4 linked regions of the Homo sapiens genome follow. The protein of the gene in region 4 interacts with the protein of the main gene of each other region in a biochemical or structural test. Each region holds a gene or a part of one and is shown on either strand. Other genes may lie near its edges.

Region 1 (7,929 bases), on a different chromosome or scaffold from region 4:
TGTGCTTCTTGACATCTAATCCACTTGCAGTAATTTCTAGGCTTTTTGCTCCTGTTAGGTCCTATAAAATAATGACATTAGTCATTCTCCCAAGAGGCTATAAAAGGAAGCACTGAATTGCATCCTGTTTTTCAAAGATAACTCTTCAGATTAAAACAAAAAGTGTAAAAAAAAAAAAAACTTCACACAAGAATTACTTTTTCATAAATTCATCATTTTAGATATGAGATATAGATCTCCATTACAATCCTTGACTCTTAGGAACTAAACCCCCTCCAACAAAGAATCTCAGAAAAGTACAATTGTATGGTATAATGATGAAAGCTCTATCTAGCACAGTACGAGAAAAAGATCATCTCACAAATGTTCTTCAAAGCCACAGGTATCAATCACTTCAACTAAAGTAAGGGTAAGATAATCCACAGCTAAGAATCAATTCTTCTACACTTTACATAGATACCTAGATGCAAATTTTTTTCAGCCGACCACAAAATTAGGTCCACTCTGAGTGGTGAAAAACAAAAGATTCTAACATTCTAGCAAACTGGTAAACCATACACAAATTATAGAATACAAAGAATGCAGCCGATGCAAATTCTGTCACTGACAAGGTAGCAAAGCCATAGCCTGATACTCCTCAGGACACCTCATCACGCCCACTGGGAACATGGCACACACTGGAGATTCCAGTCCAAGGACTTTGGAATGTCAACTTAGCTCTTTACAAACACAACTAAGTTTTTCAGGGAAAAAGACTTACATTGGTTTTCCTCTTTTGGAAAATTTTACCGATTGATGATGCCCTTGGTCTTCTGTGGAGTCTATTCTTCTAATCGGGTTGTTCTCCAATTTTAGTGTACAACGGGCTTGTTTCAGGGGAGCTTGTTTGGGATGCAGACTGTCAAGACCCAACCTGGTATCTGGTTCATAAGCAGTCCCTGAAACCTCCCTCCGGTTCCAACAAGCTGCTCAAGCCAGGAAACGGTGGTCCTGGGGACTCCTGGACCTTCAGCTTGAGAAACACTGAAGGGGTACCATTTACCACCACATCCTACTGGATTACAAACGCTAGATCTTTGGATCTCCACGACTAGCAAGCAAGTTAAAGACTTTTAGATGGCAGGCGTTATCGGTCAGGTTGGGAGTGAACGCTTTGTCCAGAGGAGGAGGTAGGGACGCCGGGAAGCAACAACTCTGATTTTATTTCGCCGGCTCCACAGCCTCCCATTGCCCCAGGAGCCCACCCGCACTCCAACCCCCGCATCTCGGACCTGTGGCCTCAGCCCAGACTCACATCACCAAGTGCACCTACCCAGCCTCCGTTATCCTGGATCCAGGTGTGCAGGTGCCGGTTCAGGTACTCAGTCATCCACAGGGCGATGTTGTCCACCAGGGGCGACATCTCCCGGTTGACGCTCTCCACACACATGACCCCACCGAACTCAAAGAAGGCCACAATCCTCCCCCAGTTCACCCCGTCCCTGAAGAGCTCCTCCACCACCGTGGCAAAGCGTCCCCGCGCGGTGAAGGGCGTCAGGTGCAGCTGGCTGGACATCTCGGCGAAGTCGCGGCGGTAGCGGCGGGAGAAGTCGTCGCCGGCCTGGCGGAGGGTCAGGTGGACCACAGGTGGCACCGGGCTGAGCGCAGGCCCCGCGGCGGCGCCGGGGGCAGCCGGGGTCTGCAGCGGCGAGGTCCTGGCGACCGGGTCCCGGGATGCGGCTGGATGGGGCGTGTGCCCGGGCTGGGAGGAGAAGATGCCCGGTGCGGGGGCGGCCCCCGGGGGCGCGGCGCCCACATCTCCCGCATCCCACTCGTAGCCCCTCTGCGACAGCTTATAATGGATGTACTTCATCACTATCTCCCGGTTATCGTACCCTGTTCTCCCAGCGTGCGCCATCCTTCCCAGAGGAAAAGCAACGGGGGCCAACGGCACCTCTCGCCCCAGCTCCCACCCCACGGCCCCCAGAGAAAGAAGAGGAGTTATAATCCAGCTATTTTATTGGATGTGCTTTGCATTCTTGGACGAGGGGGTGTCTTCAATCACGCGGAACACTTGATTCTGGTGTTTCCCCCTTGGCATGAGATGCAGGAAATTTTTATTCCAATTCCTTTCGGATCTTTATTTCATGAGGCACGTTATTATTAGTAAGTATTGTTAATATCAGTCTACTTCCTCTGTGATGCTGAAAGGTTAAAGAAAAAACAAACTAATAAGTAAAAAATCAGGTGCGTTTCCCTGTACACACTGAGTGAAAGCAGGGCATACACACTACAAGTAACACGGCTAAAAAGAATGTATTAAGCTGCCTGGAAATTAAATTTACTCGAATGCACTTTAAGTAAAAAATCTCAAAGGTTTCCATTGAAAGTTACATTAAACCAATTTCCTGTGCAGAGAACTTACTTGTATTTTTTAAGTACAGCATGATCCTCTGTCAAGTTTCCTTTTTGTAAAACCAAAACAAATGCATAAGGCAACGATCCCATCAATCTTCAGCACTCTCCAGTTATAGCTGATTTGAAACTTCCCAATGAATCAGGAGTCGCGGGGAGAGGGAGTAAAAATTAGGAGGATTTCCAGATCGATTCCCAGACTTCTGCTTCACAGAAATGTCAATCCGCAGGAATCCCAACCGGAGATCTCAAGAGCTCGAGAAAAAAAAAAGGCAGCGGCGGCGGCAGATGAATTACAATTTTCAGTCCGGTATTCGCAGAAGTCCTGTGATGTTTTCCCCTTCTCGGCAATTTACACGCGCGCACACACGCGCGGGCACAGGCATGAATCTCTATCCACGGGACCGCTTCACGCCTCCCCAGGAGAGAGACAGGGGAGAGGGGACGATGAAGGAGCCGGGGACGGAGGCAGGAATCCTCTTCTGATTAAACTCCGAACAGCAAATGCATTTTCCGAAAAGCTGCTGGATAAATGAAGGCAGGACGCGCCTGGCCCGCCGGTGCCGAGCGCTAGAAGCCCGCGCTGTGTGTGGTGCGGCGAGGGGTGGGGAGAAGGAGGTGGTGGGGGAGGGTTTTATTTTTTCCCTCTTTTCCTAAAAAGGATGACTGCTACGAAGTTCTCCCCCCTGGACCCCCTCTTCCGCTGCACCCCACCGGCGCACCCCGCCTCCGGGCTGCGCACCCTTTCTCCTCCTCCTGGTCCTGCGCGGCGGCGCTGGCTACGGCCGCCTCCCGGAGCTCCCGCCGCGCAGCCCGCTCCGAGCGCTGACGGCCGCCGGCAGGGAGGGCCCGGAGCCCCGGCACCTTCGCTGGCAGCGGCGGCGGCGGCAGCGCGGCGGGGCCACGGAGAGCGGCGGGCGGGAGCGCGGCGGGCGGGCGGGCAGGCGGCGCGGAGGGGCGGGCGCGGGAGGAAGGGGGCGGGAGCGGGGCTGTGGTGCCTGTCCTCTTACTTCATTCTCTGCACAGCCCGACCGGTTTCCTGTGCGTAACGTCACACGGTTCATTCAAAAAAAGAAGAAAGAAAGAGCCCTCCTCTGAGCCACCCGACCGCCCCCTCCGCCCCGCTCCCTGGCCCGGGTTAAAGGCGCCGCGGCAGGCCCGGGAGTGGCGCGTCCCGCCGGGGGCACATGGCGCGCGGGGCCGCGGCCGGGGAGGGCGCGTCCGGGCCGGCCACCCGCCCGCTCCGCTGCGCCCGCGGGGCCCGGCCAGTGGGTGGCGCGGGCGGCACAGGCCTCCCGCGCGGCCGCGGCGCGGTGGGTGTGCGCGGGGCCTTCTGCTCAGGCCTGCGGCAGGCCGCGTGCGGACTTGGTGGTCGCTGGGGTCCGCGACGGGGTGGGGGCTCCCGGGGAACCGCACGCGGCCGGGCCGGGCGGACGACGGAGTGCGGAGGGGGGCGGCTGGCGGGAGGGTGCGCCATGAAAACAAGGGCTGGAAAAGCGCCGGGAACCGCCTGGACCCTTTCTGGCCGTGTGAGTGTGTGTGGAGTGTGTGTGTGTGTGTGTGTGTGTGTGTGTGTCTCGCCTGGACCTTTTCTAGCCGTGTATGTGGGAGTGTGTGTGTCGCCTGGACCCTTTCTAGCCGTGTATGAGAGTGTGTACACGCGCCTACACACACACACGTTGTGTTACCGGCGCTCGGCCGCCGGGGGAAGACCCAGGCCAATGCCGCCCCCCACCGCCCCCAGCAGTGGGACCTCAGCGCTGCCCTGCTGTGAAGACAGGTGACTCTGCACGTTTTAAGCAATGTCTAGGGACGCCCCGAGCGTGGTGTTTACTTTCAAGTAGCTTCCTAGGTGTCCGCGCACTACACACGCACGCGCATCCCCGCCCGTGTCCACCTGAACACCTAGTCCGTGGCCCAGGCCATGCAGAACTCAGCGCTCCAGGGAAGGGGTTTATCAAGGGCTTTACGACAGTTTAAGTCAATGTTTTCCCTCTGTCCCTAACACCTTTTACACTGGTTTAGTGCTACACGATGAGGACTTCCATATAGTAACTTTCAGGCCCACCGTCCTAACGCTGGGGTGGGTGGGCTCCTAAAGGTCTCCACCTTTGCCTCGTAGCCAATCCTAGTTGGCCGCACTTTCTCAAATGAGGTACATAGATACACACATACACATTCACACTCGCAGACGTGTGTACGCGCAAGCAGACAGTTTTAAATTAATCAGCATGAATAGCCCCTAGCAAAAAAGGACAAGAGGACAAACAAGTTGCACGTGTGTATTTTTATCTCCAAGAGTCTTTGACAAAGCACCAAGAAAAGAAAAAGGTCTTCTAGAAGCACAGCGGCTTACTTAATAGGGCTCGAGTGCAAATATATAGGGACACTGGATTATTGGGGTCAAGAAAGATGACAAATGAGTACTACAATGTGTACAAATATGCTATGACTTTTTTTTTTTTTTTGAGACAGAGTCTTGCTCTGTTGTATCTTGGAGGCTGGTGTGCAGTGGTGCGATCTCAGCTCACTGCAACCTCTGCCTCCCAGGCTCAAGCAATTCTGCCTCAGCCTCCTGAGTAGCTGGGATTACACGTGCACGCCACTACGCTCTGCTAATTTTTGTATTTTTAGTAGAGACGGGGTTTCGCCATACTGGCCAGGCTGGTCTCGAACTCCTGACCTCGTTATCCGCCTGCCTCAGCCTCCCAAAGTGCTGGGATTACAGACATGAGCCACTGTGCCCTGCCTGACATCTTTATTTTGTCTCATTCCTACTCTAAAATCAAAACATTCTTTAAAAAGCCAGAAAAGCACACCAAATTATGATTTTTTTAATTTTTACTTAGTTGGCCTTTTTTTTTTTTTTTTAAGAGATGGCTTTTGCTATGTTGCCCAGGCTGGACTCGAACTTCTGGGCTCGAAGGATTCTCCCACCTCAGCCTCATGAATAGCTGGGACTATACGCACTGCCATCTCTCTTGGGTGTTTTTATTTTATTTCTTCATTTATTGTATCCCATCAGCCCAACAAGCCAACTTCTCTCACATAGGAATGGGGGCCTGGGTACAAATTTCTTATCCAGGCAAGAGGGGATGAAAGGAGATCCTCCTTCTTGCCCTTCTGATGGTTGGGACAGAGTCCCTTTTATGCGCGTGGGAGGTGTTTTGGTCTGGATAGACACTGGGTATAGATTGACCTAGAATAAATGTTCTCACATAAATTCATACCAATTGCACAACAGTATGGTTTAGAAATCTTGAAAGCGTATTTTAAAGCCCCAAAATTACCTAAGAGGAATTGAAAGGCTTCAAGCTCCTAATACTCAGCATATGAGTGAGGAAATGATAGGACAAACCTGCAAAAGAAACTGTACTTCTGCAAAGGGGGCAGCCAGAAGGAAACGGATCCCCTACTTCCAGAGAAAGAAAAGCTGACTGATTTTCGTCTTCCTTTGCTCCCACAGAGCCTCACTCTATGGATTTTCCCAGACTGATTCCTTATGTGGCATCTTGGCTATAATCAGTCTTGAGACAGGTCTGTATTGCAGTCTTTGGCTAGGGGTTATATTTTCCCTGGGAATGTTCTAGATACTCTTTCAAATGAAAGAGTGAAACCATTCCTGCGTTCAGATTCCATGTTTATTAGATTCCATTTTAAAGCATAAGGGCAAGTATTCCCAGGAAGTATGTGACATTGACTACTCGTCTTTGGGCAATGCTGAGGTGGGGGAGGGAACACCAGCCTGAGGCAGGAGTAACTGGATTTGAATCCTAGATCTATGCCTGAGACCTTCCAACAACCTTACAAACATATGCACAGTGGACTTTTCACTTTCCAAGATGTTTTCTACTTGTAAGAGCCAATGGATGACCCTTTTGGCAGCTTTACCTGGTTGGATTCTACAAGTAGCGTGGCACCAGGAAGAGAAAAAAAACAAGATGCAGGGAATGGAGATTGTATCAAGAGTCTGAATGGCCTGTGTTTTCTTTCCGTCTTCATTCCCCAGGCCACCAAACAAAAAGCTTTTGATTGCCAGTTTTCGCCACCTGCTGGTTGTTTCACAGCGTTACTCTCTTCATCCATCCAAGAAAGTTCTTTCATCCATCATCAATATAAATATTCTCCAAGTTTATGAAATTCAAAAGGTACATTATTCTAACATGAACATACTAATGTTTAATATAGGTATGTATCGGCCAGGTGTGGTTGCTCATGCCTGTAATCTCAGCACTTTGGGAGGCTGCGGTGGGTGTATTGCTTGAGGCCAAGAGTTTGAGACCAGCCTGCACAACATGACAAAACTCTATCTCCACAAAAAATACAAAAATTAGCGGGGCATGGTGGTGTGTGCCTGTAGTCCCATCTACTCTGAAGGCTGAGATAGGACGATCACTTGAGCCCAGGAGGTGGAGGCTGTAGTGAGCTGTGATCACACCACTGCACTGCAGCCTGGGTGACAGACTGATACCCTGTCTCAAAAAAAAAAAGAAAAGAAAAGAAAAAAAAAATCATGTGTGTGTATCAAATCTTCCCAGCTAGTAAACTTTTTATTGAAAATGTGGGTAGAATGAGACTATTAACTGAGGATATTGATAACTAATAGGTCAGATGGAAGAGTAAACCATGGCCCCAACCTGAAATGGAAATTAATCCATAAATAAAATGAGCTGACTAGAGAGAATAAAAACAAGTAGTCCATATAGTTTGCATAAAAGAAAAATGAGGCCGAGCGCAGTGGCTCACGGCTGTAATCCCAGCACTTTGGGAGGCAGAGGTGGGCAGATCACCTGAGGTCAGGAATTCAAGACCAGGCTGACCAATATGGTGGAACCCCGTCTCTACTAAAAATACAAAAATTAGCCAGGCGTGGTGGCGGGGACCTGTAGTCCCAGCTACTCAGGAGGCTGAAACAGGAGAATTGCTTGAACCCGGGAGGCAGAGATTGCAGTGAGCCAAGATCATGCCACTGCACTCCAGCATGGGTGAGAGAGTGAGACTCCATCTCAAAAAAAAGAAAGAAAGAAAGAAAGAAAGAAAACTGCTTAAAAAATAACTTCTCAGCCGGGTGCAGTGGCTCATGCCTGTAATCCCAGCACTTTGGGAGGCCGAGGTGGATGGATCACGAGGTCAGGAGATCGAGACCATCCTGGCCAACATGGTGAAACCCTGTCTTTACTAAAACTACAAAAATTAGCTGGGCATGGTGGCAAGTGCCTGTAATCCCAGCTACTCGAGAGGCTAGGCAGGAGAATCACTTGAACCAGGAAGTCAGAGGTTGCAGGGAGCCAAGATCGCGCCACTGCACTCCAGCCTGGAAACAGAGCAAGACTCTGTCTCACAAAAATAATAATAATAATAATAATAATAATAATAATAATAACTTCTCATAGGCTTAGATTAGCAATCCAAAATGCCAGTTTCCAATTTCAAGAATCTTATACATTATAAATTTGTGTGGTAGGTAGTGCCATGCTCTTTCAAATGGTTTGCATACATTGCCAGCAAGCATTATATAAGCCCCAGTCATGCTTT
Region 2 (7,652 bases), on a different chromosome or scaffold from region 4:
GGAGGAATGTTAGAATTAGAAATTCATTATTTTGCAACGTCTAATGAAATACTGGATTGAGTCACAATTAATGGATGCTAAAATAATCAGGTGATGTTTGATGAAAAACGTAATGTAGGAATCAGGCTGACACCACCTCAACCCATGAGCAATATTTCGTCATTAAAATGCAAGTATCAGACATATGTGCCTCATGATGTGATGTAATAGGAAATACACGGCAACTACCACAAAGTATGCTTACCTAAAATATAGAACCTCAATCTAATAAAAATCCTAAATCTACCTATTTGCAGAAATAGGAGTAATATCACAAGGAAGTAATCAGCTAAATCTAGAATATGGGACATTCCGTAGTACAAATGGCCTAGTTTCTACAGTAAATCTATAGTATGAAGGGTGAGATGCTGGTAAAATTGAGTAAAAGGGACTTAAGAAATATGACAATTTGTGATGGTATTAGGTGGGGCGGGGTGGAGGAAGAAACAACTAAGTGCAATGTATGGACTTGTTTAGATCTTGAATTGAATAAAGCAACTGTAAACAGAATCTTTGATATAATCGAAAAAAATTTAATACTTGGAGGATGATGGATAGTATTGAGATTTTTCTTAATTTTGTGTGATAATGGCATGGTGGATATGATTTTTGAAAGTTCTTATCAGATGTGCATATTGAAGTTGGGATATGCTTTATAATACTTTAGCAAAAAAAGTGGGGGACATAGTAGGGAGGAGGGTAGGGAAGAATTGTCTATCAACAAATGTTGATAATTGTTGAAGCTGATAACTGTTGAACTCATTAGGGCTGAGGTTGATTATACTATTATCTCTCTTTTTGCATATGTTTAACTTTTCCCACAAGAAAATGTTACAGGAAAAATTATTTAGCTTTCTCCAACCTGGGTTGGTATAAGTCACTGATTGTGACTATCCCAAAAGTTGGTTCAACATTAAGGTAATGTTTGTTAGGAAAAAAAATTAGATCGACACGTTATTTAGTATCCCAGGTTTTTGAGCATTTATTTAAAAAATTCGCTATAATGAGAGATGATTATAAATTTTTGTTATATTTCTGAGATGATCAATTTTAACAGGATTGGTGGTAATTTTTCAATCATAAACTGATAAAGTTTGATGACTGATAAATCGCCCCAATATATAGCAAATCTATTCAATTATTTTGTTTTCATAAGGGAACAACCTTGGTGGAAAGTACAGCTGTCTCCATGTACAAGGAGAAGCACATAGCTCACGTGTGCATCTGGCAGAACCCCCAGTACAGAGACAAGCAGGTGCTGTTTTCCAATGACACCTACTTGTGTGTGTCCTAATACTATAGTTAGAAAATGGCTCAGATTTTTGAGTTGCTTTTCCCAGAACTCAAAGATTGTCTTCCTGTTTATCTTGGTGGAATGCCTATGCTATACTTGTGATTTTTCTGTTCTCTGTAACCTATTAAAACAAGATTGTCACAGATGGGGAAACAAGAGGTCATTAGTTAACAATCAGATGTTCGATTTCTTGAGCAGAAAAGATACTCTGTTGTGTTTTTAAAAACATTTTTAAAGGAGAAATAGGGCTACTCCTTGGAAGGCAGATTGTTGTTCAGTGGGCTTTCCTCAAGAGTCAACACAGTCGTTTCTAAATTCATTTCCTCCTTCAATTCTGTTCTTGTAGTTAACATAAGCTTTGCCTCTTTTAGTTCTTGTCAGTTCACAGTGGCTACTTCTTTATAGCTTAACTAAATACTGCCAGAAGAGCAAAGGGAAGCCAAATAGGTGGTCAATTAGCTTTGTCTAAGTTGGTATGATATGGAGAGGAAAGCACTGTTACTTTAATTCATTCTTCAGTTTCTAGAACAGTTGCTTTTGATTAGGTTAGGGGCAGAAAAACATTTGTAATAATTAATGGCTTTGAGAGACACAAGGCTTTGTTTGCCCCAGAGTATTAGTTAACCCACCTAGTGCTCCTAATCATACAATATTAAGGATTGGGAGGGACATTCATTGCCTCACTCTCTATTTGTTTCACCTTCTGTAAAATTGGTAGAATAATAGTACCCACTTCATAGCATTGTATGATGATTAAATTGGTTAATATTTTTAAAATGCTTAGAACACAGATTGGGCACATAACAGCAAGCACCACATGTGTTTATAAGATAAATTCCTTTGTGTTGCCTTCCGTTAAAGTTTAAATAAGTAAATAAATAAATAAATACTTGCATGACATTTTGAAGTCTCTCTATAACATCTGAGTAAGTGGCGGCTGCGACAATGCTACTGGAGTTCCAGAATCGTGTTGGTGACAAGATTGTTCACCAGCATATGGTGTGGTGAAAACTCACTAATTTGGAATTAGTTCAGATTATTAAGCCTGAATAGGTGAAAATCCTGAAATCAAGGATCTTTGGAACTATTTGAAATCAGTATTTTATATTTTCCTGTTGTATTCATTAAAGTGTTGCAAGTGTTCTATTTGATGGATTAAGTATATTTAGGATATACATGTTCAATTTGTGATTTTGTATACTTAATTGGAACAAGAAAGCTAATAAAGGTTTTGATATGGACATCTATTCTTTTAAGTAAACTTCAATGAAAATATATGAGTAGAGCATATAGAGATGTAAATAATTTGTGGACACACCACAGACTGAAATAGCAAATTTAAAAGAAATTGTTGGAAGAATCAAGTGTTTGTGGAATGAGTCCTCCTAGTAAAGTTCCTGCTCTTGTGAATAATTAAGCCTCATGTATAATTACTATAGCAAAAGGAAGCCTAAGAAGTATTAGACTCTACTTGTATTTAAATTACATTTTACATAATTTATGTGTATGAAAAATGTTTTAAATGCTTATTTTCGTAAGCCATGAGATAGCTCCTTTATATTTTAAGAATTTCTGAATTAATTTGCTTGGATTTTATTAGTGCAAATGGCAGAGCTAGCAATTCCTTTTTCTGTGTTCCCATTCCATCCTATTCATCCCTCTTTTAGGAAACTCTGAACTCTGGATTGTCCTTGTTTACATACCTGCCTCCTGCATTGGACTATGTGTCTCTGAGTGTAGTATGACTAATTCATTTGTTTGTCAAGGACTCTCAATGCATTTGTTGAACAGCCTAATTAGTAATGTCTGCAACAATGACATTTTACTGTATTTAATAAAGCTCTGGGAAAGTAGGATACACATAAGACAGGTCTAGGTCTAAATTCTTTACAGAAACTTGGATTTTTAGTTCGGTTTGAAATTTGAAGATGTGAGTATATTTATCTCAGTTTCCCAAAGGACAAGCTAATTGGAATTATCATCCTCTTTCACTTGATTGGATCCCCAGAATGCCATTTACGCATGCAGCAGGATTTTATAACAGTTTTAAATTCTGTATATTTGATGAAGAGGTTTTATATTTTTGGATTCAAGCCTCTTTTTAAACTTCTACAATATGGTTTACAATAATTCCTTATATCCTGCTTTTGAAATACATATTACAACTTTTTAAGTTTGGAAGGCTATATTTCAAGGACTGAAGTTACAGTATACTCAAGTGATACACAAGCCTAGCACCCCACTTTCCACATAGTGTTCGATAAAGATTGATAAACTCGAAATCACAGACCTTTTAATTCTTAAGACAAATAGCAGCAGAAAGAAACATCTTTGGCTTATTTCTGGTAAGGTTTTTATGCTCTGTAAAACAAAGAATTGTATTCATCCGCGCAGCACAGATTCTATTAAAAATAAATGTGAGAGTCGTTAATGTAGTACTGCTCATTTACCATCAAAATTCACTTTTCAGGAATAATCCCATCAGTTTAAATTGGATATTGGAATGAGCATTGATTACATTTAACTTGGTAGCCCAAAATTTCTTCATGGGGTTTTGAACTCGGCGGGATTTCAAAGGTTTTAAAAATGAGTTTTTGATTTTTTTTAAAACCCTCAAATTTCATTACCTTTAAACTAGGTCGAAACGGGGCGCAAGAGATTGGATTAACACCATAGTAATACTTATTTTGTTCTTAACCATTTCAGGGCTTCTTGAAATAGAGGCTGTATGGTGTAATGGAAAAAACAGCCTTGGAATCTGGGAGCCTGATTCCTGGATTCAGTCCCAGTTTTGCGTGACCTTGGGCAAGTTACTTTACTTCTCTGAATTTCCGTTTCCTCCTCTGCAAAATGAGGATCGCAATAGCCACCTTGCAACCTTGACTGGAGCGAGCCTCGCACACCCCGCGCCGGCCTGGAGGAAGAGCAGCCATGATTACGCCGCCTTCGCTCCGCTACCCGCTTGCGGCTGGCGCCCTCCTCCAGCAGGTGTAGGCGCTGCCGCGCTGCCCCACGCCTTTCCGCCGCTCGCGGGCCTGCGCCTCGGCGTCCCCGAGGAGGCCGCTGCGGGCTGAGGTAGCGCACCGGCCTCTCGGCGTCCCAGTCCGGTCCCGGGCGGAGGGAAAGCGGGCGACCCACCTCCGAGGCAGAAGCCGAGGCCCGGCCCCGCCGAGTGCGGAGGAGCGCAGGCAGCCCCCGCCCCTCGGCCCTCCCCCCGGCCCTCCCGGCCCTCCCTCCGCCCCCTCCGCCCTCGCGCGCCGCCCGCCCGGGTCGCCGCGGGGCCGTGGTGTACGTGCAGAGCGCGCAGAGCGAGTGGCGCCCGTATGCCCTGCGCTCCTCCACAGCCTGGGCCGGGCCGCCCGGGACGCTGAGGCGGCGGCGGCGGCCGAGGGGGCCGGTCTTGCGCTCCCCAGGCCCGCGCGCCTGAGCCCAGGTTGCCATTCGCCGCACAGGCCCTATTCTCTCAGCCCTCGGCGGCGATGAGGCGCTGAGGCGGCTGCCGGCGCTGCGCCGGAGCTTAGGACTCGGAAGCGGCCGGGCCGAGGGCGTGGGGTGCCGGCCTCCCTGAGGCGAGGGTAGCGGGTGCATGGCGCAGTAACGGCCCCTATCTCTCTCCCCGCTCCCCAGCCTCGGGCGAGGCCGTCCGGCCGCTACCCCTCCTGCTCGGCCGCCGCAGTCGCCGTCGCCGCCGCCGCCGCCGCCATGGCCAATGACAGCGGCGGGCCCGGCGGGCCGAGCCCGAGCGAGCGAGACCGGCAGTACTGCGAGCTGTGCGGGAAGATGGAGAACCTGCTGCGCTGCAGCCGCTGCCGCAGCTCCTTCTACTGCTGCAAGGAGCACCAGCGTCAGGACTGGAAGAAGCACAAGCTCGTGTGCCAGGGCAGCGAGGGCGCCCTCGGCCACGGAGTGGGCCCACACCAGCATTCCGGCCCCGCGCCGCCGGCTGCAGTGCCGCCGCCCAGGGCCGGGGCCCGGGAGCCCAGGAAGGCAGCGGCGCGCCGGGACAACGCCTCCGGGGACGCGGCCAAGGGAAAAGTAAAGGCCAAGCCCCCGGCCGACCCAGCGGCGGCCGCGTCGCCGTGTCGTGCGGCCGCCGGCGGCCAGGGCTCGGCGGTGGCTGCCGAAGCCGAGCCCGGCAAGGAGGAGCCGCCGGCCCGCTCATCGCTGTTCCAGGAGAAGGCGAACCTGTACCCCCCAAGCAACACGCCCGGGGATGCGCTGAGCCCCGGCGGCGGCCTGCGGCCCAACGGGCAGACGAAGCCCCTGCCGGCGCTGAAGCTGGCGCTCGAGTACATCGTGCCGTGCATGAACAAGCACGGCATCTGTGTGGTGGACGACTTCCTCGGCAAGGAGACCGGACAGCAGATCGGCGACGAGGTGCGCGCCCTGCACGACACCGGGAAGTTCACGGACGGGCAGCTGGTCAGCCAGAAGAGTGACTCGTCCAAGGACATCCGAGGCGATAAGATCACCTGGATCGAGGGCAAGGAGCCCGGCTGCGAAACCATTGGGCTGCTCATGAGCAGCATGGACGACCTGATACGCCACTGTAACGGGAAGCTGGGCAGCTACAAAATCAATGGCCGGACGAAAGTAAGTGTGTGCTGCGGGTTTGTGCTGGACAGGCCCTTCTCGGCGGGCAGCCCCTGCCTGCGACTGAAACTGCCTAGGCTGAGAAGCAGCATTCCTCTATATAGAAGGGACTCGCTCTTTCTTGTGTAGCTCCCCGTAAGGAAGACGGACAGAATTTGTAGTAGCTGTTTATCTAGTTAGCCCCTTTGTATCCACTGTTTTCCACTTACTGCCCGTTCACAAACTTCTCCGGCTAATTGCATGGTTTTTTGACTCAACGTAGGCGCTTTAACTTTCCTATTTTCTTTTTTCCATTCCACTATTGGTCACAATTCAAACCTTAGTGGCGTTTTAGCCACCCAGTGAAGGGGTGTTAGAGTACCACCCAAAGCAAGTCCTGGTTCTGCATCTGCCTTGTGTTTGCATAAGCTGTTAAATTTCCTATGGTGTCTGAACCACTCATCACATTTCGATTGAGAGTCAAACGCTGTGTTCAGTTAGGAATTTGCCGGCTGACCGCAAAAAGGTACATTTAAAATAAGCATTTAGTCGAAAGACTCTGTATTCAGGAAGAGCTTGGCTACTCCCCTCCCCCTGTTATAGCTCTTATCCCTCACCCTGTTCCTACTGTTTTGAAACCCGTTACAAAAAGGGGAAAGAAGTATTTCCGTCTTCAGGCCTCTCAGTGTAGGTAGGCTACATTTTTAGCACCAGTTTCCTTTATTTGCTTTGTTAATGTAATCCTTCTGTTGAAAACTGTTTTGTAACTTCCTGGAAAACAAAACAAAACAAAACAACAACACGGAATTGGCGCAGGAGGGCTCGTTTTATCCTCCCAATTTGGTGAGATCTTTTTGTTTTCTCTTTACTATTGCGGTTTTTCCTCCACAGATTTCTTCACTTCTTACCTAGTCTATTCCCTCTTTCCTCCCTCATGATAAACAGTAGACTCTTTCGTCCTTAACCAACTCTCTTGCAGCTCTTTTTCATTTTACTTCTCAGATCTTGATCTTTTCTTTGTGGCTGCTCCCAGGCCACCCTCCTCCACCATCAGTCTCTGATTTTGTGGGTTTTGAGAGATTGACCTGGGAGAGCATCACAGTTGCATGTTTGTACACACACGCTGACTCTAACTAGTGGTTTTTCTGTATGTGTGTGTCAGATCATCTACTTTGACAGTCATTACATGTGATTCTCAGGCTGCCCGAAAGACTGAACATAGGCAGTGAGAAAGTTATAAACGTGAACATTTTGTGGGGAAAAATACAATGTGGAGTCTAATTTACCTATTGCCACTTCATTGCTGGATGAAGGCACAAGTCTTAATTTCTTGTAGTCTTAAAAAGGAACAGTTGAATAATATTAAACTGGAAGGAAAAGGGGGATCTGATGAAATTTCAGCGTTGGTCTTTCACTAGATTTTCATTGATAAAATTTTTAAGAAAGTTGTCAGGGCACAACTTTAAGAAATTGTCACATCTGAACATAAAGTCCTGAGCTCCAGAGCAGGAAAGAAATTAGTTTGAGACAATAGGGCTGTGAAGACTGACCAAAGTATATAGTTGGGACATAAGCTTAAATTGGATTCTTGAAGAAGATGATGTCCCAAATCTTTCTTGATCTGCTTTCCTTAGTTAATTTAGCTTTCCAAGTTAAGCTGAGACCTCTTTTCTCTTTTGTCTTCCTGCTTTCACCTGTCCTTAGAGAAGGGACAGCAGACAGCCTGGCTCTTAGAGCAAATGCTTCT
Region 3 (7,020 bases), on a different chromosome or scaffold from region 4:
TCCTGTTTCAAAGGTAGTCTTTTAGGATACGCTGCAGGACCACTAAGAGTCCACCCAGCTTCTAAAGACTTGAGGGTTAGAAGGCTACATTTCGAAAAAACAAGTCAAATATCCCCCTCCAGCCCCCTTTGAAACTACCGAGAGGTCATCGACCACAGGCCTGAGACTGGGTCAGCAATCAGGCTCTTTGACCACCCCCTGCCACAAGAAATATCCAGGACATTAACTTACTCAAACCAGGAACCCTATCTCACCAGAAGAGAAACCCCAAGGTAACCTTAGGCATTCCTTTCAGATTCAGGTAATTACAAAAGCCAACCCTTAGCTCATAGTGTCAACATCTCCTCTACCAACCACCCAGCCCAAGGACCAGTAGCAGAAGCACATGGGCGATGTCTCCCCTCCACTGCTCTGACCCACCCCTCTGGCAGAAAATCTAACAAGCTACAAAATGCCAGAAAGACAGGGAGTAGGAGAAGGAGAAGCCAAGGGTCTCTATAAATCAGCCCTGAATGCACCCATTTGGCTGCCAAGAGCTTCTCACTGCCTTGCTAGCAGCCTGCCACTGTTCCCTGGCAAATTGAAACCACCCACGCAAACACTCAAAACCCCAATCTCCTTGCTAATAAGATACAACCAGTTAACACCGTGAAAAATGCACATCTCCAGCCTTCATTTCAAAAAAGAGCTCTGTACTAAATGCAATATGCTTTTAAAGGGGGTTTTACAGGGACCAATCTCAATGCAAAGACCAGTACCAGATGTCTGAGTTTTGGTTACAGGTTTATAATTAGACACAAAATTCACTCCACACTGGAGTTTTACTTTCAAGCTGGAAGCTAGCATTAGTTCTACTTGGGGGGAAAAAAGCAAAGTCAAGTCAACTTGGGAAAAAAAAAAAAAGGAGGAGGAGGCTAAGTATAATCATAAATTAAAAGTCGCGAATCAAAGGTGACTGGTAGTGTCTTTTAGGCATGAAGAGACTGGCTTACAAAAGTGACTACTGCTTCTACCACACACAGCGAAGATTGAATTACAGACACACTAAATCATGTCTCTTGCAGATGGTCTCAAGTAGTTACATAAGACAGGTAATCAGCAGCACAATTGAGAACAACCCCTAAATACATGCTTGAGAGAAAGTGGGTTTTTTTTTTTCCTTAAGAGCTCTACTGCCTGAATAGATCATTAAAAGTTACCATAATTCACCTTCCCCCCTCCCCCCAGTGAAAATGCAACTAGACCTACATGTCCATAAATAGGATGAAGCAATCGGTATCTGCTTGTTTTCAGGCAAGGTCTTGGGCTCAGAGGTTGGTGCTGGGGCCTTGGGAGGGAAACCCAATGCTGGGCTGTGGGCATTTACATGTACACTGGCCTCCCCTCCACCTGCCTTGTCCCCATTTAGATCTCAGCTTTACAAAGCATTTAACACCACTTTAAGTTAATGGTCTTTTTATTGGAAAAAAAAAAAAAAAGACTAGCATTTACAACTTGGAATGGACGTAAACTGTAATTTCTTTGAACAGCAATGTTGATGGTTGTGCTGAAGTCCACAGCCACAGCCTACTCTGCCGGCTCCAAGTCATGGTTCAGAAGGTTTTAAAAACAGAGAGTCCAAAGATGCTCCCTTGGTAAATGTTTCTTATTAAAAATTTGTGTGAACAGTGACAGCCTGACACCTGTTTCACTCTAGAACAATGCAGACAACGCTAAACCAACATACACGGGCATGCCACCAGGGTGTGTCATCGTCACCATGGGTCGGAGCACACGAAGTACAAGAGGACCATCCTACCAGTGGGGCCACGTCTCAACGGTTTATCCTTCACCCATTTTTCTGCACGTCATCCTGAGGTAAACCAATTTTAAATGTGTTTGTTTTCAGTAAACCAGCTATGACAATTTATACTAAACAAATTGAACTAGAACCCATTTGAATAGGTTTTGAATTTGTTTTTTCATTTTTCATTTTTAATACAAAGGCCTGACTGTGCTCAATCGTCAAGCTGCATGCATGAAAAACTGGCCAGCCCAAACAGTGTATTAATCATTAGCAAATGGAACTTTAAGGAGTCCTTATCATTAAGGTAGTACAAGTATTTATATTGTAAAACTGATGTGTAGCTTGATCTTTAGGGGACAGGACCACCAACCAATACATGCAGATTTTGTGTGTGTGGACAGAAGGTACTTTTGACATTCAGTTTTGCTATATAGAAACAGAATGAATAAATGAACTTTTTTCTTTTTTCTTTTTTTTGCAAGAGGTAAGTAAAAGATTCAATTTGATTCTTCTAGAGGGGGGAAAAAGGAGTTGAAAGTAGGTCTTCATTTTGCAGTCATCATCTGTACGAATTCTGAAAAGACAAATATAATAGTAACTTTTGGTTATCTTTGAAAACAGCTTTAATGAACACAACATCTTTACTGTACATAAAATAAAGTCAAAGGCTGTCTAGTGAAGCAGTTGGCTTGCTTACAGATCTAAAGGTAAGACTATGAAACACTGAGCTCAGAGAATTTAGTTTTACCTTCATAGTTGACTTGTCCGTCTCCATCAATATCTGCTTCTCTGATCATTTCATCTACTTCTTCATCTGTTAGTTTTTCTCCTAAGTTTGTCATGACGTGACGTAGTTCTGCTGCACTGATATAACCATTGCCATCCTGTGAACATTCAGCAATTGTTATTGCTAATGATGTAGTGTGGGGAAGTAGGTCTTTGACTTAGCTATGCCCTCTCAAGTTACTGCTAACTCTGCTGCCATAAACAATTCTCTGATCTCTAGTTCCCACCTCTAACCTACTAAATACATGCAAACAGCTAATGCAGAAAACAGGATTTGCAAAAGCTCACAACAATTCAAAGTAACAGTCAAGAAACATGGTCCAAAATTCCTATTTATTATGCCTACCCTCCCCTGATACGGTTACCATAAGGAGGATTTTTGAAAGTGAGATCAGAGGCTCAGGCAGTTAGATTTAAGTCTTCTGTCTATAACATTATTATAGCTTTTAGAAGTGAAAGCGGAAGAAGCCATACTTAAGTACCATCTGCTATGTAGATGCTGGATTACCTTGTCAAAGACTCGGAATGCCTCACGGATTTCTTCTTCACTATCTGTATCTTTCATTTTTCTAGCCATCATAGTCAAAAATTCGGGGAAGTCAATGGTGCCATTACCTCGAATTAAAAAACAAAAAGCTCATGTAAAGTAAGCACTCCATTAACGCTGCTCTGCAGTAATCATTTCAGAACCACTGTACGGAACGGTAAACATGTACTAGGACAAAGGGGCAGACTATCTTACTAGGTTCAATCATCTGCAGGTCTAAAACGTTCAAACACTTCACAGGGCAATTTCACATAATTTCAAACTCATCATCAGTGCCCAGGATAGTATTTAATTATACAAAGGAAACTGCACATCTGGATTCAAGCCCATGGAAGGGTCATGAAGGGCTGTACAGTTCAAGAGAAAAATAGCATACACCACTCCGCAGGCTGAATCTTTCCACTCCGAGGGAAGAAAGCGCCCCCGACTGCCATCCCTGAGTTAGGGAAATCACTCAGGTCTCACTCTGCCTTGGTTAGTGACAGCAGTAACACAAAAAAGGCCTAGAACTGAGCTGCAGGTTAAGTGTATAAAGTGTTTCAGAGGAGAAAAGATTATGAGAGAGGAACATTGATTCTGTTATGCCATGCATGGGCCATGAAGTCTTACCAAGTCTTCTCCAGGATCATTTCTTGGCCACGCTATGATGGTTAGCCACCTGTTTTCTTCCAACTCAGTATCTTTATTTCCCATTAAGGGAAAAGCTCAGGAGCATTCTCACAGCTCAGACTAGTAACACTTAGGGAACTGTCAGAACAATCTGTTCTACGGCCAGTACTCCAAACAACTCCTCTTTAAAACTAAGAGATGAATACCCCCAAAGACAAGCACTCCAGACTAACAGTGTCATTGAACTAAATGGAAATAAAATTAGAAAGAAAAACCCTTAGGTTAAGTTACTCATTTTCACCAGTACCTTTCAAAGAAAATACCTCAGGGATCCCTTCAAGACTTTTTTAGCCTCAAAAATTTTAAGATATTGTTCATATTCATCAAAAACAAAAGAAATTATTTTAAGCTATCTCACAGCCATGCAGAGAAGGTCAGGTACCATCCTGTTTTCTCAGTGCAAACACAGGATTCTGTAGCCTGGCACAACTTCTCCTTCTTCCACACAATCCAAGAGCCTAACAGACTTCTCCCCTCCCCAGGCACAGATTCCCGGGGCTCCCACAAACAAGAGGAAGTTACTCCACGTTCCTGGGTAGCTGATCATCTTAGCAAACTAGAGAACTATGGACAACCTTTTCTTTCCAAAACACTATTAGTGAAAACCACTCTAACGTGCTGAAGGCTTTGTCAAAGAACCTAATCAAAAGCTCTGCTGCCAAATGTTTGTGACCAGACAAGCGATTTTACTACACCACCCTCGAGTCAATCATCTAGAAAGTAAAATCTAGATCCGAATTGTTTATTCTTAATGCTTCTTTTATTTTTTCTTTTATCCTTTTCTCCTCCCAACTCATCTTTTAAAAATCATGTTCTATACTGTCATACAGTACATTAGAATATATATAGGATTTACCAAAATACGTGGTTTTTTTTTAGGGGTGGGGAAGTGTGCTTCAAAGCCTGCTTACTGATGGAAATCAGCAATCAAAGTTCTGTTGTCCGCTGCTGTAGAGTCGAGAGGAACAGATGACAGACCGCTATCAGGGTTACTGCTGGTTCCCTCTGGCCCTGCACCTTACAGCTTCCCTTTCCGTTAGGTTCTGCAAATCTATCCCCTGGAGTCACCACACATCCGCCTCCAAACCTCACATGCTCCTCTGCAGCAAACACATCTACAGCTCACACTGTACTCACTTTTATGGTAACTTCTAAGAGTGCTCGTCACCTACTTCATCTGGGGGTTCCTCCTCCTCTTTAAACACAGTAAGTTTGTTAAAAAGCACTTTCTATGGCTATTTAATTTCACCTCCCCCCTCAAGACTCAGTGCAGACTCATGGGCCAGTTGATAAAAGCTTTGAGCTCGGCCAGGAGCAGTGGTTCACGCCTGTAATCCCAGCACTTTGGGAGGCCGGGGAGGGCGGATCACGAGGTCAGGAGTTTGAGACCAGCCTGGCCAACATGGTGAAACCCCATCTCTACTAAAGATACAAAACACTAACTGGGCGTGGCGACACACGCCTGTAATTCCAGCTACTCAGAAGGCTGACGCAGGAGAATCGCTGGAACCCAAGAGGCAGAGGTTGCAGTGAGCCGAGATCGCGCCAGTGCCACTCCAGCCTGGGCGACAGGGCGAGACTCCGTCTCCAAAAAAAAAAAAAAAAATAGATTTGAGCTCTAGGTCGCACCAAGCAGGAAGAAAACAATAGTGATCCCATGCAGAAAACATTCTAGACACTAAGCAGGATGGACGCAAGGCCCATCATCTTCTATTTTAATTGTCAATGGCCCTGGGGCAACCACAGAAAGGATCTTTGCACATTTGCTTTGCTCTGGGGACCTGAAAGACAATCCTGTAACATGTCTGAACTTGAATTACACAACAATGGCCCTCATTCATGGTTTTAAAGCTCTTACCATCAGCATCCACTTCATTGATCATATCCTGCAATTCAGCTTCTGTTGGGTTCTGACCCAGTGACCTCATGACAGTTCCAAGTTCCTTTGTTGTGATGGTGCCATCGCCATCTTTATCAAATAGGGAGAAGGCTTCCTTGAATTCTGAAAACAAAAGTTGACCCGTTAGAATCAATGTCTTTATCCAACCCAGTCACAATACACACTTGCCGGGGGCTTGCCAAAGCCAGCCATTCAAGTTGTGCAACGTATCAGAAGTCTGGTCTTTATCTACTGAAATAATGACCACAATAGTCCTGTTGGACTGGCCTTCATACAGCAGCCCATAAAGCAAACACTGCTCCCAATAAACAGTGCCACACACCACAATATTCCCAAAGGTTTCAAGGCGGCTAAGCTGGAACATGCTTAAATTAGTCCTAAATCCAATCTTTTTTTTTTTTTTTAAACAATGGAGTCTCGCTCTGTCACCGAGATTGGAGTGCAGTGGTGCAATCTCAGCTCACTACAACCCCTGCCTCCCAGGTTCAAGGGACTAAATCCAATCTGACAAGATTGGTCCATGTGCCCCCTTCAAATCCCTTCCTGTTACATTTCTAAAGCCATAAGAATCCCTTGTTTCATAACAAATAAAATGGTTACTAGAAATGTACATTCCCAGGTAAACTCTCTCCACATGACTTTTAGAATATTTCAGAAGCATTCCTGGTTTCCTAACGAGAAACAGTCTCAAAACAAGTCCTCCAGGAATATTAAAAAGCTAAAATCTGCCAGACGTGGTGGCACATGCCTGTAGTCCCAGCTACTCAGGAGGCTGAGGCAGGAGGATTGCTTGAGCCCAGGAGTTAGAGACCAGCCTGGGCAACAGAGTTTAACTAATGTAACTTTCTTCCCAATTACTACAGTGGTCCTAACACTCATATTCACCCATTTCCATTTATTTTAGGATAGCGAGCACAAGCTTTCGTGGCAGATTACTGAAAGACCCATGGCATAAGAATTGTAAACTAAACCGCTGAGTAGCAGGCTCAGTACAATTAATCATACGCAAACTTTGCACATTGTGAAACATGGTCAAATTCTCCAGAGTTTAACATGTGGGCATCCTTAGTTTTACTTCCTTTCACCTCATCTATAAAGTACTGGCAAGAATAACATCTGACCTCAGTGTTTCTGCTTACTGTTCTTATTTAAATAAATTCTTAGAAAACTGCCCAGACTGTAGCGGGGAGGAACAGAGGAGTCACCAAAACTGAGTCAGTGCCTAGTTCTGGCCTTCTGGGGACTCCTTGGAGTTGTCAACTTACCAGCAATCTGTTCTTCGGTCAGCTGATCAGCCTATATGAAGAAAGAAAAGGTTATCATTCAGTCCAC
Region 4 (7,243 bases):
CAGAGGCTGCAGTGATCTGAGATCTTGCCACTGCACTCCAGCCTAGGCGACAGATTGAGACTCCATCTCAAAAAAAAAAAGGTTCAGTTCACCAGGAAACACAATTGCAACTCTACATGCAGCCAATGATATGGCCTCCAAGTAGAGCAGTCTTGTTTTTTTGTTTTTGTTTTGTTTTGTTTTGTTTTTGAGATCGAGGTCAAGAGTTTGAGACCAGCCTGACCAATACAGTGAAACCCCGTCTCCACGAGAAATGCAAAAATTAGCCAGGCTTGGTGGCTGGTGCCTGTAGTCCCAGCTACTCCAGAGGCTGAGACAGGAGAATTGCTTGAACTTGGGAGGCAGAGGTGGCAGTGAGCCGAGATCGTGCCACTGCACTCCGGCCTGGGCGACAGAGCGAGATTCTGTCCCAAAAAAAAAAAAAAGGGAAAAGCAAATATAAGTAAAATGTTTGCCTGCAAATATCTGTTCAATGAGTGCCAGCCATTATTATTATTGTTGGTGGTGTTATTTTATAGTTTATTTTAGTAGCTTATTAATTTATAATAATAATTATTACTATTATTTTAGAAACAGCGTCTTGCCTTGTTGCTCAGGCTGCAGTGCAGAACTTTGATCATAACTCACTGTAGCCTCGACCTCCTGGGTTCAAGGGATCCCTCCCACCTCAGCCTCCCATTTAGCTGGGACTACATTTTTAAATTTTCTGTAGAGGCCAGGTGTGACGGCTCATGCCTGTAATCCCAGCACTTTGGGAGGCCAAGGCAGGTGGATCACAAGGTCAGAAGTTCAAGACCAGCCTGGCCAACATAGCGGAACCCCCCCATCTCTACTAAAAATACAAAAAATTAGGCAGGCATGGTGGCAGGCGCCTGTAATCCCAGCTACTAGGAAGGCTGAGGCAGGAGAATTGCTTCAACCTGGGAGGCAGAGGTTGCAGTGAGCCGAGATCACACCATTGCACTCCAGCCTCACTAGACTCTGTCTCAAAAAAAAAATTAGTCATGTGTCATGGCAGGCGCCTGTAATCCCAGCTACTTAGGAGGCTGAGGCAGGAGAATCGCTTGAACCTGGGAGTCAGAGGTTGCAGTGAGCCCAGATCGTTCCACTGCACTCTACGTGGGAGACAGAGGGAGACTGTGTCTCCAAATTAATTAATTAATATTCTGTAGAGGCAGGCTCTCACTACGTTACCCAGGCTTAGGTTGCCCAGGCTGGAGTACGGTGACGTGATCTTGGCTCGCTGCAACATCTGCCTCCCGGGTTCAAGCGATTCTCCTGCCTCAACCTCCCAAGTAGCTGGGATTACAGGCATGTGCCACCGCACCCGGCTAATTTCTGTATTTTTCGCAGAGACAGGTTTCACCATGTTGGCCAGGCTGGTCTCGAACTCTTGACTTCAGGTGAACCATCTGCCTCAGCCTCCCAAAGGCTGTTTTTGAGACTGGGTCTTGCTCACTGCAACTTCCACCCCTGGGGTTCAAGCAGTCCTCATGCCTCAGCCACCCCAGTATCTGAGATTACAGGCATGCACCACCATACCCGGCTAATTTTTGTATTTTTAGTAGAGACGGGGTTTCACCATGTTGGCCAGGCTGGTCTAGATTTCCTGACCTCAGGTGATCCACCCACCTCGGCCTCCCAAAGTGCTGGGATTACTGGCATAAGCCACCGCACCCAGCCCTCCAGGTGATTTCTTACATAGCTCTGCTATGCTACCACCTTTAACCTCCCTTCCTTCCTCAGTGATTTCCGTGAGACCCCACCACTACCTTTTGTGGCAGGCACTGTGCAAGCCTCAGAGCTATAACAATGAGAAAGAACAAAGCCTTCCCAGACTTTGGGGCTCTGCCAGTGTAGAGGGCAAGGCAGAGGTAAATCAAAGCAGTGGCTCACGCCTATAATCCCAACAGTTTGGGAGGCCAAAGTGGGAGGATTGCTTGAGCCCAGGAGTTCGAGACCAGCCTGGGCAACATGGGGAAACCCCATCTCTACAAAAAATATAAACATTGGGCCGGGCGCGATGGCTCACGCCTGTAATTTCAGCACTTTGGGAGGCCGAGGTGGGCAGATCACAAGGTCAGGAGATCGAGACTATCCTGGCTAACACGATGAAACGCTGACTCTACTAAAAATACAAAAAATTAGTCGGGCATGGTGGCAGGCGCCTGTAGTCCCAGCTACTTGGGAGGCTGAGGCAGGAGAATGGTGTGAACCTGGGAGGCGGAGCTTGCAGTGAGCCGAGATTGCGCCACTGCACTCTAGCCTGGGCTACACAGCGAGACTCTGTCTCAAAAAAAAAAAAAAAAATTAGCTGGACATGATGGTGCACCTGTGGGCCCAGCTACTCAGGAGGCTGAGGCAGGAGGATTGCGTGAGCCCAGGAGATAGACATGGTTGCAGTGATCTGAGATCGTGCCACTGCACTCCAGCCTGGGTTTCAAAGTAAGACCCTATCTCAAAAAAAAAAAGGCAGAGATATAAGTAAACTAGTTTGGGAAGCCGAGGCAGGCAGATCATGAGGTCAGGAGTTCCAGACCATCCTGGCCAACATGGTGAAACCCTGTCTCTACTAAAAATATACAAATTAGCTGGGCATGGTGGCGGGTGCCTGTAGTCCCAGCTACTCAGGAGGCTGAAGCAGGAGAATCGTTGGAACTTAGGAGGTGGATGTTGCAGTGAGCCGAGATCGCGCCACTGCACTCCAGCCTGGCGACAGAGAGAGACTCTGTCTCAAAAAAAAAAGAGAAAGAAAAAAAAAAAAAAGGCCAGGCACGATGGCTCATGCCTGTAATCTTTGGTACATCGAGGTGGGCGGATCACGTGAGGTCGGGAGTTTGAGACCAGCCTGACCAACATGAAGAAATCCCGTGTCTACTAAAAATACAAAGTTAGCCAGGCATGGTGGTGCATGCCTCTACTCCCAGCTACTTGGAAGGCTGAGGCAGGAGAATCGCTTGAACCTGGGAGGCAGCGGTTGCGGTGAGCTGAGATTGCGCCATTGCACTCCAGCTTGGGCAACAAGAGTGAAACTTCTTCTCAAAAAACAAAAACAAACAAACAAACAAAAAACCCAAGTAAACTAGTTATGAAGTGGACGTTCATCAACTTCATTGTGCCAAGACAGCTAAAGGGGGCACCTGGTCTTGCCTTGGGGAGGTTGGGAGGGCTTCCTGTAGGAGGTAACCTGGGAACTCCAACCTTAGAAGTGATCTCCAAAAAGCCAGTTACCACCTCCATGATAGCTACCTCCAAAAGCTGGTGTCTGACTCATCCATCCATCCATCCATCCATCCATCCATCCATCCATCCACCTACCCATTTATTGAGCTTCTATAGATGCCAGGCATGGTTCAAGGAGGTGCTGGGTACAAATCAGGTAAAAATCTCTGCCAGGATGAAGCAGAGTGAGGGATGGTCCCTCCAACCACAAGCAAAATAATGACAAGATAATTCTGGAAGGAGTAACTGCTAGGAAGGAAATAAAACTGAGTGAAGGAGGGAGAAGTGTCCCGGTTTCAAAACAAGATCCACAAAAACTTAGCTAATCAAGGATGCCACCTTCTTCCCGAGCCATGGGGACCTTATCACCCTCCAGCAGACAGTGCATAGAGGAGGAACTCCTCCCAGTGGCCCTGCTGGCTCAGTCGCCTGCGCAGCAGTAATCGAGCGCCTCCAGTATGCACCAGGCAACCTTCTAGACATTAAACTGTGTGGGGGATGGGAGGGAGGTTTCTGTATGCCTTTGGGCACGTCACTCCTCCTCAGGCCCTCAGGTTCACTTCTGTAACTAAGGCTTCAGGATGGGTCATTCAGCAACCCCAGAGCTGCCCTGCCCGTCAAGCTTGAACTCTTTAAGGAAATAACATTTAGAGTGGACTGTGCCCCCAGCAGCCCCCAAGGTGAGAGTGCATAGATGGGGGTGTTTATCCCCATTTCGCAGATGGTCAGGATGAAGCTCAGAGGAGAGGCAGGAGTCGCACAGGCTGCGCGATACTGACCCGTGTTGGGGTCCAGCCCAGGGTCCCCCGCCCCCGCCCCAGCCCCCGCCCCAGCCCCCGCCCCAGCCCCCGCCCCAGCCCCAGCAGCCGGGAGGCTTCGGTCCCTTTAAGAACGCCCCGCGGGGCCAAGCAGGAAGGGGGAGGTGCCAACGCCCGGGACGGACGTCTGCATGAGCCAACGGGTGCGGCAGTCGCGGCAGCGGCGGCCAATGGGCACGGCAGGGGCGGGGCCAAGCGGCCGAACCTGGTTCCCGAGGCGCGGCGGCCGCGGCTGGGGGCGGGGAGGGGGGCGCAGGACCCCAAGTGGGGGTCCCGGAGCCAGAGGCAAGTGTCCTGGGGTGCTGGGGGCGCCGTGCCGGCCGGGCCGCTGCCCTGGCCTAGGCTGGTCCGGGGGCTAGCGCGCCGGGGGCTGCGGCCGATGGGCGGGGCGAGGGGCCGCGGGGGTGGCGAGCCGGGGGGGCACGGGGGTCGGGGGTGCCCGAGGGGGCGCGGCCGGGCGGGGGTGGCCAGGGATGGGGGTCACTGGGGGCAAAGGGGATCCAGTGGGGGGGTCCCGATGGAGGCGTGCAGGGCCAGGGGCGCCCGAGGCGTGCGGGGGTCGGGTGCCCCAGACTGGTGGCGTCAGACAGGCGTGGGTCGTTGGGGGCCTGGGTCGCGGCTTGACTGAGGGCCCGGCCGGGGCTGTGGGGCGTCAGGAGAGCGTGGGGTGTTATGGGATCGGAAAGGGGGGGGCGTCTGGGGACACTGGAGTGTTTACGGCGAGACGGAGCGGCTGTGGGGGGAGCTGGCCCGTGCTGGGGGCGGTGGTGGTTGGGGTGGGGGGTGGGAGGGGAGGCCGAATTGTGCGGGCGCGGGGAATTATGGGGGTGGGGGCTGGGAGGGTCTCTCAAAGTGGGGCTCCGAGCCCGGGAGGAGCAGGCAGGTGAGGGTTAGGGAGGGGATGCGGCGGGCTGGTTTGATGGCTGTGCCACACTCTTCTGAGCTTGGGGCCTGGGGGACGGAGGGGTTGGTTATTGGTTCAGGAGGTCTGGGGCAAGGAAGAGGCTGTAGAATGTGGTGGGACCTCGACCACTCCTGGAAAGGAGGCTGCTTTGAGGGGGTGGGACCGAGGCCTGATGAGAGGAGGATGGTCTCCTGGGGAAGGATTTGGGCCAGGGTCCCTGATGTTGGGGTTGTGGGGGATAGTGTTAGATTCAGAGTGTGGAAGGAAAAAACGCTTGGGGTTTCTGGGTGATTACAGTTGGTGCTTTTGGGGAGGGTCTCCCCTTTGGAGAAGAGGCTGGAGGTGGGAGGCCCTGGTAAAAGATTCAATTTCCCCCAGTGGCCTTAGAGGCTCTAAAAATGGCTTCCCTAAGGCCTCGGAGGCTGTCCTCTCCACAAAAATCCCAGCACCCTTCGCTCAGCTTATAATCAGGCAAAGCCACAGGGCCTGAAGCCCCAGGTTCAAATCCTCCTTTGGCCTTTGGCTTTCTCTGTGACCTTGGGCAAATGCCTTTGCCCCTCTGGCCTGTTTCCTGTTCTGCAAAATGTTGAGGGGAATCTTCCCTACTTCCTGGAGTATTTGTAAACATTAAATAATAATTAGCTCTAATAATGGCTAACACTATTTGAGCCTGATGCCAAGGGCTTGATGCATGGGTTAATTTCTCCCAACAAGCTGGGGTTGTTGTTACACCCACTGTATAGATGAGGAAACTGAGGCCTGGAGCCCTTGAGTTACACAGAAAGTGATCGGCAGTGTGGGGAATCAGTACAGTGGAGACTTTGAGGGGCTGTGTAGGATTCTGACCCACATCTCTGCCCCCCACTTCCAGGGCCAATTCCTGTCCCCCCAGCAGCATGGCATCGTGTGCTGAACCCTCTGAGCCCTCTGCCCCACTGCCCGCCGGGGTCCCACCGCTCGAGGACTTCGAGGTACTGGATGGGGTTGAGGATGCAGAGGGTGAGGAGGAAGAGGAGGAGGAAGAGGAGGAAGAGGATGACCTGAGTGAGCTGCCACCGCTGGAGGACATGGGACAACCCCCGGCGGAGGAGGCTGAGCAGCCTGGGGCCCTGGCCCGAGAGTTCCTTGCTGCCATGGAGCCCGAGCCCGCCCCAGCCCCGGCCCCAGAAGAGTGGCTGGACATTCTGGGTAAGGAGCAAAGGTGGATCAGGGTGCCCTTGGCCCTGGCCCTCTCGTCCCCTGAGCCTCATTTCCCCATCTGTGCTGTGAGGGTTGGAAGTCACGTGGTCACCACCGTGATCACCAGCCAGAGGCAACTACTGGAGATGCTTCACATTGATGTACTCTATCCACTGACTCACACACATGCACAATGTGCTGTGTCCCCGTTTCCCAGATCTGCTAACAGTGGCTCAGAGAGGCTGAGTCACCTGCCCAGAGCCACACAGCCAGCACGCCAGGCGCTGGCAGCTCCTAACCCCATCAATGCATCTTTTTTTGGCATTTGTCTGACACATGCTTGGGCTCTGAAAAATGTGTCCTGAGTGCACGCCAGCCTGGGCAACACAGCGAGACCCCAACTTCCAAAACAAAAAATGTGTTCTGGGGTCAAGTGGATCAGAGGAATGTTATTTTGTTCAGCCTTCTGGTTGGTTCACAGTAGTGATAGTATTGTAAATGCTCAGAGCAATCCTACAAGAAGAAAACTACATGAGCCCCCACATGTTCCCCCCAACATACCCCATCACAGCAACTGAAAACAAGAGAAATGTTAGTTTTCTGTGGAAGACGTCTTGCTACTAGTATAGTACTGATATCTAATATACCAAATAATGCTGGTGCCCATGCAAATAATAAGATATCATTACCACTATCAATTGTAATAACAATACTGTAGCAATAGTTTCCAATCATATTGACACTGATGGAACAGAAATATTACTAAATATCACCACCACTACTGATAAAAATCTTACTACTTTTTTTTTTTTTTTTGAGACAGAGTCTGACTCTGTCACCCAGGTTGGAATGCAGTGGTGCGATCTCAGTTCACTGCAACCTCCGCCTCCCAGGTTCAAGCGATTCTTCTGCCTCAGCCTCCTGAGTAGCTGGGACTACAGGTGCCCACCTCTATGCCTGGCTGATTTTTGTATTTTTAGTAGAGACAGGGTTTCACCACATTGGCCAGGCTGGTCTCGAACTCCTGACCTCAGGTGATCCACCTGCCTTGGCCTCCTAAAGTGCTGAGATTACAGGTGTGAGCCAGCACACCTGGCCCCTAATTTTTGTATTTTTAGTG

What was found.
Region 1: the proteins of FKBP8 (region 4) and BCL2 form a complex in vitro, tested with the Homo sapiens proteins (4 studies listed by BioGRID, with this or other methods).
Region 2: the proteins of FKBP8 (region 4) and EGLN1 form a complex in vitro, tested with the Homo sapiens proteins (2 studies listed by BioGRID, with this or other methods).
Region 3: the proteins of FKBP8 (region 4) and CALM1 form a complex in vitro, tested with the Homo sapiens proteins (3 studies listed by BioGRID, with this or other methods).

The regions. Positions count from the first base shown.
Region 1 is NC_000018.10:63,316,770-63,324,698, forward strand, and holds the start of BCL2 (apoptosis regulator Bcl-2), read right to left. Parts: upstream 3,001-7,929; 5' UTR 2,405-3,000; exon of another isoform or gene 2,184-2,404; 5' UTR 1,898-2,183; coding exon 1,313-1,897; coding exon of another isoform or gene 1,280-1,312; exon of another isoform or gene 1,185-1,279; intron 1-1,184. UniProt on the Homo sapiens protein: Suppresses apoptosis in a variety of cell systems including factor-dependent lymphohematopoietic and neural cells. Regulates cell death by controlling the mitochondrial membrane permeability. Appears to function in a feedback loop system with caspases.
Region 2 is NC_000001.11:231,419,272-231,426,923, reverse strand, and holds the start of EGLN1 (egl nine homolog 1), read left to right. Parts: upstream 1-4,636; 5' UTR 4,637-5,035; coding exon 5,036-5,926; intron 5,927-7,652. UniProt on the Homo sapiens protein: Cellular oxygen sensor that catalyzes, under normoxic conditions, the post-translational formation of 4-hydroxyproline in hypoxia-inducible factor (HIF) alpha proteins.
Region 3 is NC_000014.9:90,400,029-90,407,048, reverse strand, and holds part of CALM1 (calmodulin-1), read right to left. Parts: intron 6,985-7,020; coding exon 6,954-6,984; intron 5,791-6,953; coding exon 5,647-5,790; intron 3,188-5,646; coding exon 3,081-3,187; intron 2,671-3,080; coding exon 2,535-2,670; intron 2,361-2,534; coding exon 2,332-2,360; 3' UTR 1-2,331. UniProt on the Homo sapiens protein: Calmodulin acts as part of a calcium signal transduction pathway by mediating the control of a large number of enzymes, ion channels, aquaporins and other proteins through calcium-binding. Calcium-binding is required for the activation of calmodulin.
Region 4 is NC_000019.10:18,540,568-18,547,810, reverse strand, and holds the start of FKBP8 (peptidyl-prolyl cis-trans isomerase FKBP8), read left to right. Parts: upstream 1-4,237; 5' UTR 4,238-4,325; intron 4,326-5,815; 5' UTR 5,816-5,840; coding exon 5,841-6,132; intron 6,133-7,243. UniProt on the Homo sapiens protein: Constitutively inactive PPiase, which becomes active when bound to calmodulin and calcium. Seems to act as a chaperone for BCL2, targets it to the mitochondria and modulates its phosphorylation state.